Linked DNA regions of Homo sapiens: regions 1 and 2 are each linked to region 3. Evidence: fine-mapped expression QTL. A gene starts in region 3. Each other region holds a variant in brackets. All regions are shown on one strand. Distances are between the middles of the regions. Region 1 has its middle 36 kb from the start of TMEM273. Region 2 overlaps FAM170B-AS1 (FAM170B antisense RNA 1). Region 3 holds the start of TMEM273 (transmembrane protein 273).

Region 1 (2,769 bases), 36 kb before region 3:
AAGGCAGAAAACCAGCCGGGGGCAATGGCCAGCACTGAAAAGGAGAAAAAGGGAGGCCTTGTTAGTTTAAGTAATGTGTCCAGAAGATAAATCTTGTGAGAAGGTCTGTGTATGGTTATGCATGTTTGGAAATGTTTTGGGTGTCATGTTGGCTTGGTAGGAATAGAATGTCATGATACAGCAGAAACCGGTGGATTTCCACAAACACATCACAATCAGCAGGAAGAGAGTGTCTTGGTCAGCAGGACAGCAGGAGATGCAGGGCTGATAAAGAGGAAGAGCTCCCAGGCTTTCCCCACTTCAGAGAGGGAGGCCTGGGTGGAGCTGGGAGCAGTGGTGCTGGAGACAGAGTGGGCTCTCTTGGGGAGGGCTCGGGCATGGACTGAAGTGACACTGAGCCTGTCAGCTAAAGATGGCCCTGAGCTGTCCCTTGGCCACTGTCTGTGAGTCATTGAGTAACGTGAGTACATGTGGCCCGGCCCGCAGTCTCGTCTGCATGGAAGGAGACCTGGTTGGAAGCTGCGGTGCTCATTTCCTGGAGGCTCCTCTGAGCTAACTCCTGCTGGCTCCAGGGCAGCCTGTGTCCGACCACCCCTTGCCCACCCTCTTAGCACCGAGCTCCTAGGTCCAGCACATTTTGCTTGTTACCCTTCGATTTACATATCTGACAGTCACAACATCTACTTGAGAACTATTTTAGGAGCCCTCTGGTGTTATCAGGAAGCAGCAGTAACATAGCGGAGCTGCCGGGAATTTTTCCCTGGTGTTTGTATAGGAGCCCACCTAGGGAGCATTTCAACAATCAGTGGGGCTCTCTTCTTGCTGATGATATCATGGTCCCATGAGACCATAACCCCCAGAATGGGAAGCTGCCAAATCAGTAGGCCACCACTTTTCGATTTGGTGCTCAAAGATTTTTGGCCAGAGGAACCTTATCAAGTAGAGATGGTCCCTAATTTAAGATGATTTGATGTAAGATTTTTTGACTTTATGATGGTGCAAAAGCCATATGTATTCAGTAGAAACAGTACCTTGAATTTTGAGTTTTGATCTTTTCCTAGGCTAGTGATATGCAGTATGATACTTTTACATGAGATATTCAACACTTTATCGTAAAATAGGTTTTTTGTGTTAGATGATTTTGCCCAACCATGGGCTAATGTAAGTGTTCTGAGCACGTTCAACTAGGCTAGGCTGGACTGTGATGTACAGTAGGTTAGGTGAATTAAATACATTTTTTTTGAGACAGAGTCTCACTGTGTTGCCAAGCCTGGAGTGCAGTGGTGTGATCATGGCCCACTGCAGCCTTGTCCTCCCAGGTTCAAGAGATTCTTGTGCCTCACCCTCCAAAGTAGCTGGGATTACAGGCATGTGCCACCATTCTC[G/C]GCTTATTTTTGTAATTTTTAGTAGAGATGAAGTTTCGTCAAGTTGGCCAGGCTGGTCGTGAACTCCTGGCCTCAAGTGATCCATCTGCCTTGGCCTCCCAAAGTGCTGGGATTACAGATATGCACTACCACACCCAGCCTAAAGGCATTTTTGACTTACAATATTTTTTAACTTAGATGGTTTTATTGAGATGCAACTCCATCATAAATTGAGGAACATCTGTATCACATTGTTAGAGTAATATTTTCTTGGCCACAGATGCCAGCACCATGCTTCCTGTACAACCTATAGAACTGTGAGCCAACTAAATTTCTTTTCTTTATAAATTACCCAGCCTCAGATATTTCTTTTGAGCAATGTAAGAATGCAAGAATGAACTAACACAGAAAACTGGTACCAAGGAGTGGGGCATTGCTATAATGATACCTGAGAAAGTGGAAGTGGCTTTGGAACTGGTTAATGAGCAGAGATTGGAAGAGTTTGGAAGGCCCAGAATAAGTCAGGAAGATGAGGGAAAGTTTGGGATTTCTTAGAAACTGGCTACATGGTTGTGACCAAAATGCTGATAATGATATGGGGAGTGAAGTTCAGGCTGAGGAGGTCTTAGATGAAAATGAGAAAGTTATTGGGAACTGGAGTAAAAGTCATCCCTGTAATGCCTTAGCAAAGAGCTTGGCTGCATTGTGTTCATGTCTAGGGATCTGTGGAAGTTGGAACTTAAGAGTGATGACTTAGGGTATCTGGTGGAAGAAATCTCTAAGCCCCAAAACATTCAAGATGTGGCCTGGCTACTTCTAATAGCATATGATCAGATATAGGAGCAAAGGAATGGCTTACAGTTGTAACTTGTATTTGAAAGGGAAGCAGAGTATAAAAGTTTGGAAAATTTGCAGCCTGGCCCTGTGGTAGAGAAGGAATCCAAGCAGCCTTTGGAGTAACCACTTGCTAGAGAGATGTGTACAACTAAGAGGGAGCCAAGTGCTAACATCCAAGACAATGGGAAAAAGGCCTCAAAGGCATTTCAGAGATCTTAGAGACAGCCTCCAATCCCAGGCCCTGAGGCCTAGGAGGAAAGAATGGTTTCAAGGGCCAGGCCCAGGCCCCCATTGCCATGAGCAGTCTTGGGACACTGCTCCCCACATCCCAGCCACCCTGTCTCCAGCCTCAGTTCAAAGGGGTCCAGGTACAGCTCAGACTGCTGCTCCAGAGGGCACAAACCACAAACTTTGGCAGCTTTCATGTGGTGTTAAGCCTGCAGGTGTGCAGAAAGCAAGAATGAAGGAGGCTTGGCAGCTTCCCCCTAGATTTCAGAGTACTTATGGGAAAGCCTGGGTGCCCAGGCAGAAGCCTACCACAGGGGCAGAGCCCCCACAAAGATACTCT
Region 2 (2,769 bases), 62 kb after region 3:
TAGAAAATCTAGAAGAAATGGATAAATTCCTCGACAAATACACCCTCCCAAGACTAAACCAGGAAGAAGTTGAATCTCTGAATAGACCAATAACAGGCTCTGAAATTGTGGCAATAATCAATAGCTTACCAACCAAAAAGAGTCCAGGACCAGATGGATTCACAGCCGAATTCTACCAGAGGTACAAGGAGGAACTGGTACCATTCCTTCTGAAACTATTCCAATCAATAGAAAAAGAGGGAATCCTCCCTAACTCATTTTATGAGGCCAGCATCATCCTGATACCAAAGCCGGGCAGAGACACAACCAAAAAAGAGAATTTTAGACCAATATCCTTGATGAACATTGATGCAAAAATCCTCAATAAAATACTGGCAAACCGAATCCAGCAGCACATCAAAAAGCTTATCCACCATGATCAAGTGGGCTTCATCCCTGGGATGCTAGGCTGGTTCAATATACGCAAATCAATAAATGTAATCAAGCATATAAACAGAACCAAAGACAAAAACCACGTGATTATCTCAATAGATGCAGAAAAGGCCTTTGACAAAATTCAACAACTCTTCATGCTAAAAACTCTAAATAAATTAGGTATTGATGGGACATATCTCAAAATAATAAGAGCTATCTATGACAAACCCACAGCCAATATCATACTGAATGGGCAAAAACTGGAAGCATTCCCATTGAAAACTGGCACAAGACAGGGATGCCTTCTCTCACCATGCCTATTCAACATAGTGTTGGAAGTTCTGGCCAGGGCAATTAGGCAGGAGAAGGAAATAAAGGGTATTCAATTAGGAAGAGAGGGAGTCAAATTGTCTTTGTTTGCAGATGACATGATTGTATATCTAGAAAACCCCATCGTCTCAGCCCAAAATCTCCTTAAGCTGATAAGCAACTTCAGCAAAGTCTCAGGATACAAAATCAATGTACAAAAATCACAAGCATTCTTATACACCAATAACAGACAAACAGAGAGCCAAATCATGAGTGAACTCCCATTCACAATTGCTTCAAAGAGAATAAAATACCTAGGAATCCAACTTACAAGGGACATGAAGGACCTCTTCAAGGAGAACTACAAACCACTGCTCAAGGAAATAAAAGAGGATACAAACAAATGGAAGAACATTCCATGCTCATGGGTAGGAAGAATCAATATTGTGAAAATGGCCATACTGCCCAAG[G/T]TAATTTATAGATTCAATGCCATCCCCATCAAGCTACCAATAACTTTCTTCACAGAATTGGAAAAAACTACTTTAAAGTTCATATGGAACCAAAAAAGAGCCTGCATTGCCAAGTCAATCCTAAGCCAAAAGAACAAAGCTGGAGGCATCACACTACCTGACTTCAAACTATACTACAAGGCTACAGTAACCAAAACAGCATGGTACTGGTACCAAAACAGAGATATAGATCAATGGAACAGAACAGAGCCCTCAGAAATAACGCCACATATCTACAACTATCTGATCTTTGACAAACCTGAGAAAGACAAGCAGTGGGGAAAGGATTCCCTATTTAATAAATGGTGCTGGGAAAACTGGCTAGCCATATGTAGAAAGCTGAAACTGGATCCCTTCCTTACACCTTATGCAAAAATTAATTCAAGATGGATTAAAGACTTACGTGTTAGACCTAAAACCATACAAACCCTAGAAGAAAACCTAGGCATTACCATTCAGGACATAGGCATGGGCAAGGACTTCATGTCTAAAACACCAAAGCAATGGCAACAAAAGCCAAAATTGACAAATGGGATCTAATTAAACTAAAGAGCTTCTGCACAGCAAAAGCAACTACCATCAGAATGAACAGGCAACCTACAAAATGGGAGAAAATTTTCACAACCTACTCATGTGACAAAGGGCTAATATCCAGAATCTACAATGAACTCAAACAAATTTACAAGAAAAAAACAAACAACCCCATCAAAAAGTGGGTGAAGGACATGAACAGACACTTCTCAAAAGAAGACATTTATGCAGCCAAAAAACACATGAAAAAATGCTCACCATCACGGGCTATCAGAGAAATGCAAATCAAAACCACAATGAGTTACCATTTCACACCAGTTAGAATGGCAATCATTAAAAAATCAGGAAACAACAGGTGCTGGAGAGGATGTGGAGAAATTGGAACGCTTTTACACTGTTGGTGGGACTGTAAACTAGTTGAACCATTGTGGAAGTCAGTGTGGCGATTCCTCAGGGATCTAGAACTAGAAATACCATTTGACCCAGCCATCCCATTACTGGGTATATACCCAAAGGACTATAAATCATGCTGCTATAAAGACACATGCACACGTATGTTTATTGCGGCACTATTCACAATAGCAAAGACTTGGAACCAACCCAAATGTCCAACAATGACAGACTGGATTAAGAAAATGTGGCACATATACACCATGGAATACTATGCAGCCATAAAAAATGATGAGTTCATGTCCTTTGTGGGGACATGGATGAAATTGGAAATCATCATTCTCAGTAAACTATCGCAAGAACAAAAAACCAAACACCGTATATTCTCACTCATAGGTGGGAATTGAACAATGAGAACACACGGACACAGAAAGTTTTATTTTTAAAAAATCAGTATGGGAGAGAATTGAAATGAGGCATAATATCTAAGCTCTGAAATTTCAGCCTGTAAGAGACAAGTGTTTTTAAGTGCTAAATTCTGTATTCTAAGGGCAAAGCATCATTTTAAACACTTTGTGAATAGTAAATCATTCAGTGCTCTCCACAGTCCAATGAG
Region 3 (2,769 bases):
AGCCCTGGGCCTGGCCTGAATGTAGCTCCACCGTCCCCAGCCACTGTCTACAGATTGTCAGGTCTGCACTGGCATTTTCTTTCAATACACTTAGAGGAAAGTGAAATATTTTTCTTACACATGTTCCCATGAACTGGGGCAAAATTAAGAAAACTCCACATATTCCAGGAGAAATAAGAGAGTATGTTTCTTGGTGCAGGTAGAAACTGATCTTAATTTCATCAAATGAATAAAGTGTGGACAGATGGAACTTGAAGGCACCCAGATGAAGCCAATTGCTTCTCTCATGACCAGCCTTCTCCTCTCATGTCCATTATTTATGTGAAACTCAGAAGGAGCCACAGCAGCCATGCAGAAGAACCCAGGGGGCATCTGTGGCACCAGGGCAATCGGACTGCCTCTGGCTGGACCTTGGCAGGGGATGGTACCTGTACACAGAGGGCACATGCAGCCTGAGGGGCATAGGCTGCCAGCCAAAGGCCTGGGTTTCGAGTCCAGCTCTCACATTTACTGCTGCGTGGACTTGGACAGGTTGCATGCTAAGATGGCATTGGGCTCAGTAGCAAGTGCTCACGGTGTTGGCTGCTACCGTTAGGGATTTGACTGAGGGAGCCCAAGAATGAAAAGAGCTCGATTTCTGCCAGCTCAGTTGGGTGGGGGACTCAAGACTTGTCATTAAGTTGATTTATATTTTAAAAAGTGACATTTCCTGCACATTTGGGTTTTTGGCTGAACATCTAAGCATTGTGACAACGTGCAGGTATAAAGGAGTACAGGAGCATAAGGCCTTCAGCCTGCTGGCTGAGCCTGTGTGACTACCAAAGTTCCTCCAGGCTAAGGACCTGGACATGGGGCCTGTAAACTTGGATGGGAAAAAAATTACATCTCTGTTCTCTAACCTCTAAGGAACACTTAGCATCTTCTTCTAATAGTAGTGTGGCAAACGAACCACAGAAACATTACCACCCAGTAACTTTATTTCTGGTAGGAATCACAGGTCTTTCCATCCACATTCCAGCTGTTACAGGTATCTCTCAATATCGATTCCATTTATCACCATGTCGAGATGGTGGTAGCTGTTTCATCTGCTGCCAGATCTTGCTATTTACTGTGTGGATAAATAAGCATGTATATTTCTACTTCACAAGTTTAACAAAATATTTTGATAACTGTGTGTTAATACTACTGATTTCTACTATGATCCTTATCTATTTTAGTTTGGGGATTTAAAAATCTTATTCTGAGAAGAGAGTGATAGGCATTCCTAGACTCAGAGGCTCCCATGGCACAAAAACAGTGACCGAGCTGGACTATTGGCTGGAGGGGCATTTCCTATTTCTGCTCCAAGGCAGAGGCTACTGCAAGGGCTGGACTGCAGGGCAGACCGGCTTTGCCCACATTCCTCTCTGAGACTTACTAGCATGGGTCATTAGGCAAGAAACCGCACCTTACCGAGCTTTGTTCCCACACTCTGTGGGGAAGATTATAGGAGAGAACACTGGGTATAATACCCCAGCATGTACAATGGGTCTAATCACAGCCAGCTTCTGGTGGAGTCCAGAATGACAGGGGCTTCCTTCAGCCCTGTCTTCAGAGAGGCTGAGAGGAACTGAACAGCCTCCTGGCTGTGACAGTGGTTTCCTTCCCCATCAGTCACGTGGGTCTTGTCCTGTCCCCAGAGCCTTGGGTCACATGGCTCATTGTGCCTGCGCTGCCAGCAGCCAGGAGCCAGGAGCCAAGAGCAGAGCGCCAGCATGAACTTGGGGGTCAGCATGCTGAGGATCCTCTTCCTCCTGGGTAAGTGGGGACTGCGGGGGTCTCTGGCCCGGGGGAGCCTCAGTGGGCAGGAAACTGGGGGAGCCTTAGCCCACTGGGGCTTGATCCCTAAAACATAACTCTGTCCCTTTACACAGATGATGTTTCTCACTTTGATCTGGTAGTGAGCAATGATCTTGTTTGTCTCATTCCAGCTGCAACTTACAAATGCTTCTGGGCTAAAGGAGAATAGGAAGGGTCATGGCAGAAGGAGCTTCGGGCTTGGGATCTAGAAACATCTGGGTGTAAACTGTGGCTCCATTGCTGATAAACTAGAATAAGCTTCTGAAACTCCCTAACTTTCTGAACCAATGAGATGGGAGATAATCATGTTTACTTTTTGGGATTTCAAGAGAGTTAAGTTAAATTTAATTAAGTCAAATCAAAATACTGACATAGAATGAGAACATGTAGGCATGTAGATACTGGTATACATTTAATGTTGAATCAGAATTCTCATGCAGTGAAGCAGACTCTTTGCTACTCAGAGGTATCTTTGTTTTTAAAAATTATCTTTAATGCATTCCTTGAAAGAAGGAAGAAAGGAGAGAGGCAAAGACTAAAACAAAGTAGGGCCAAATGGAGGAGAGAAATATAAAGTCAGAGAAGTAGACAGAGAGGAAGAAACTCAAAGAGAGAGAGAGAGAGACAGACAGAGACATAGAGAGATGGTTAGAAATATGCATAGATGGAGACAGAGATGGAGAGAGACACATGCCTTTACGAAGTCCCCTCTGATATCAACTGTTGTTTCCTAAAAAGGCAGCATACGTCCCTCATATATACAAAGACGTTCCTTCCCAGAACTTGCACTGGGCCGAGACTCAATGGGAAGCAGTCTGTCTCCAGATTAAATCTTGTGTCTCCAGACCAATAGGTTGTATCCTGAATGCGGGCAAAGTTAGTGCTGTGGGCAGGTTTCCATCTAAAGTCTGCACTAAGCAGGGGAGAGCA

The links. PIP is the estimated chance that this variant, and not a neighbour inherited with it, causes the effect.
Region 1: its variant is the best candidate, but not a certain one, in a credible set for the expression of TMEM273 in whole blood (TOPMed, PIP 0.89).
Region 2: its variant is the best candidate, but not a certain one, in a credible set for the expression of TMEM273 in whole blood (INTERVAL, PIP 0.86).

Annotation. Positions count from the first base shown.
Region 1 is chr10:49,223,234-49,226,002 of GRCh38, reverse strand. No RefSeq gene overlaps it. Among named protein-coding and RNA genes, the nearest start is that of TMEM273, 36 kb to the right of the region's middle. The variant G/C (reference allele first, on the strand shown) is at 1,386.
Region 2 is chr10:49,124,869-49,127,637 of GRCh38, reverse strand. The region is part of intron 1 of FAM170B-AS1 (FAM170B antisense RNA 1); the gene reads right to left. Among named protein-coding and RNA genes, the nearest start is that of FAM170B-AS1, 4.4 kb to the right of the region's middle. The variant G/T (reference allele first, on the strand shown) is at 1,194.
Region 3 is chr10:49,187,322-49,190,090 of GRCh38, reverse strand. TMEM273 (transmembrane protein 273) reads left to right here and starts at 1,700. Exons shown (of 7, transcript NM_001288740.3): 1 at 1,700-1,797. The coding sequence starts at 1,755.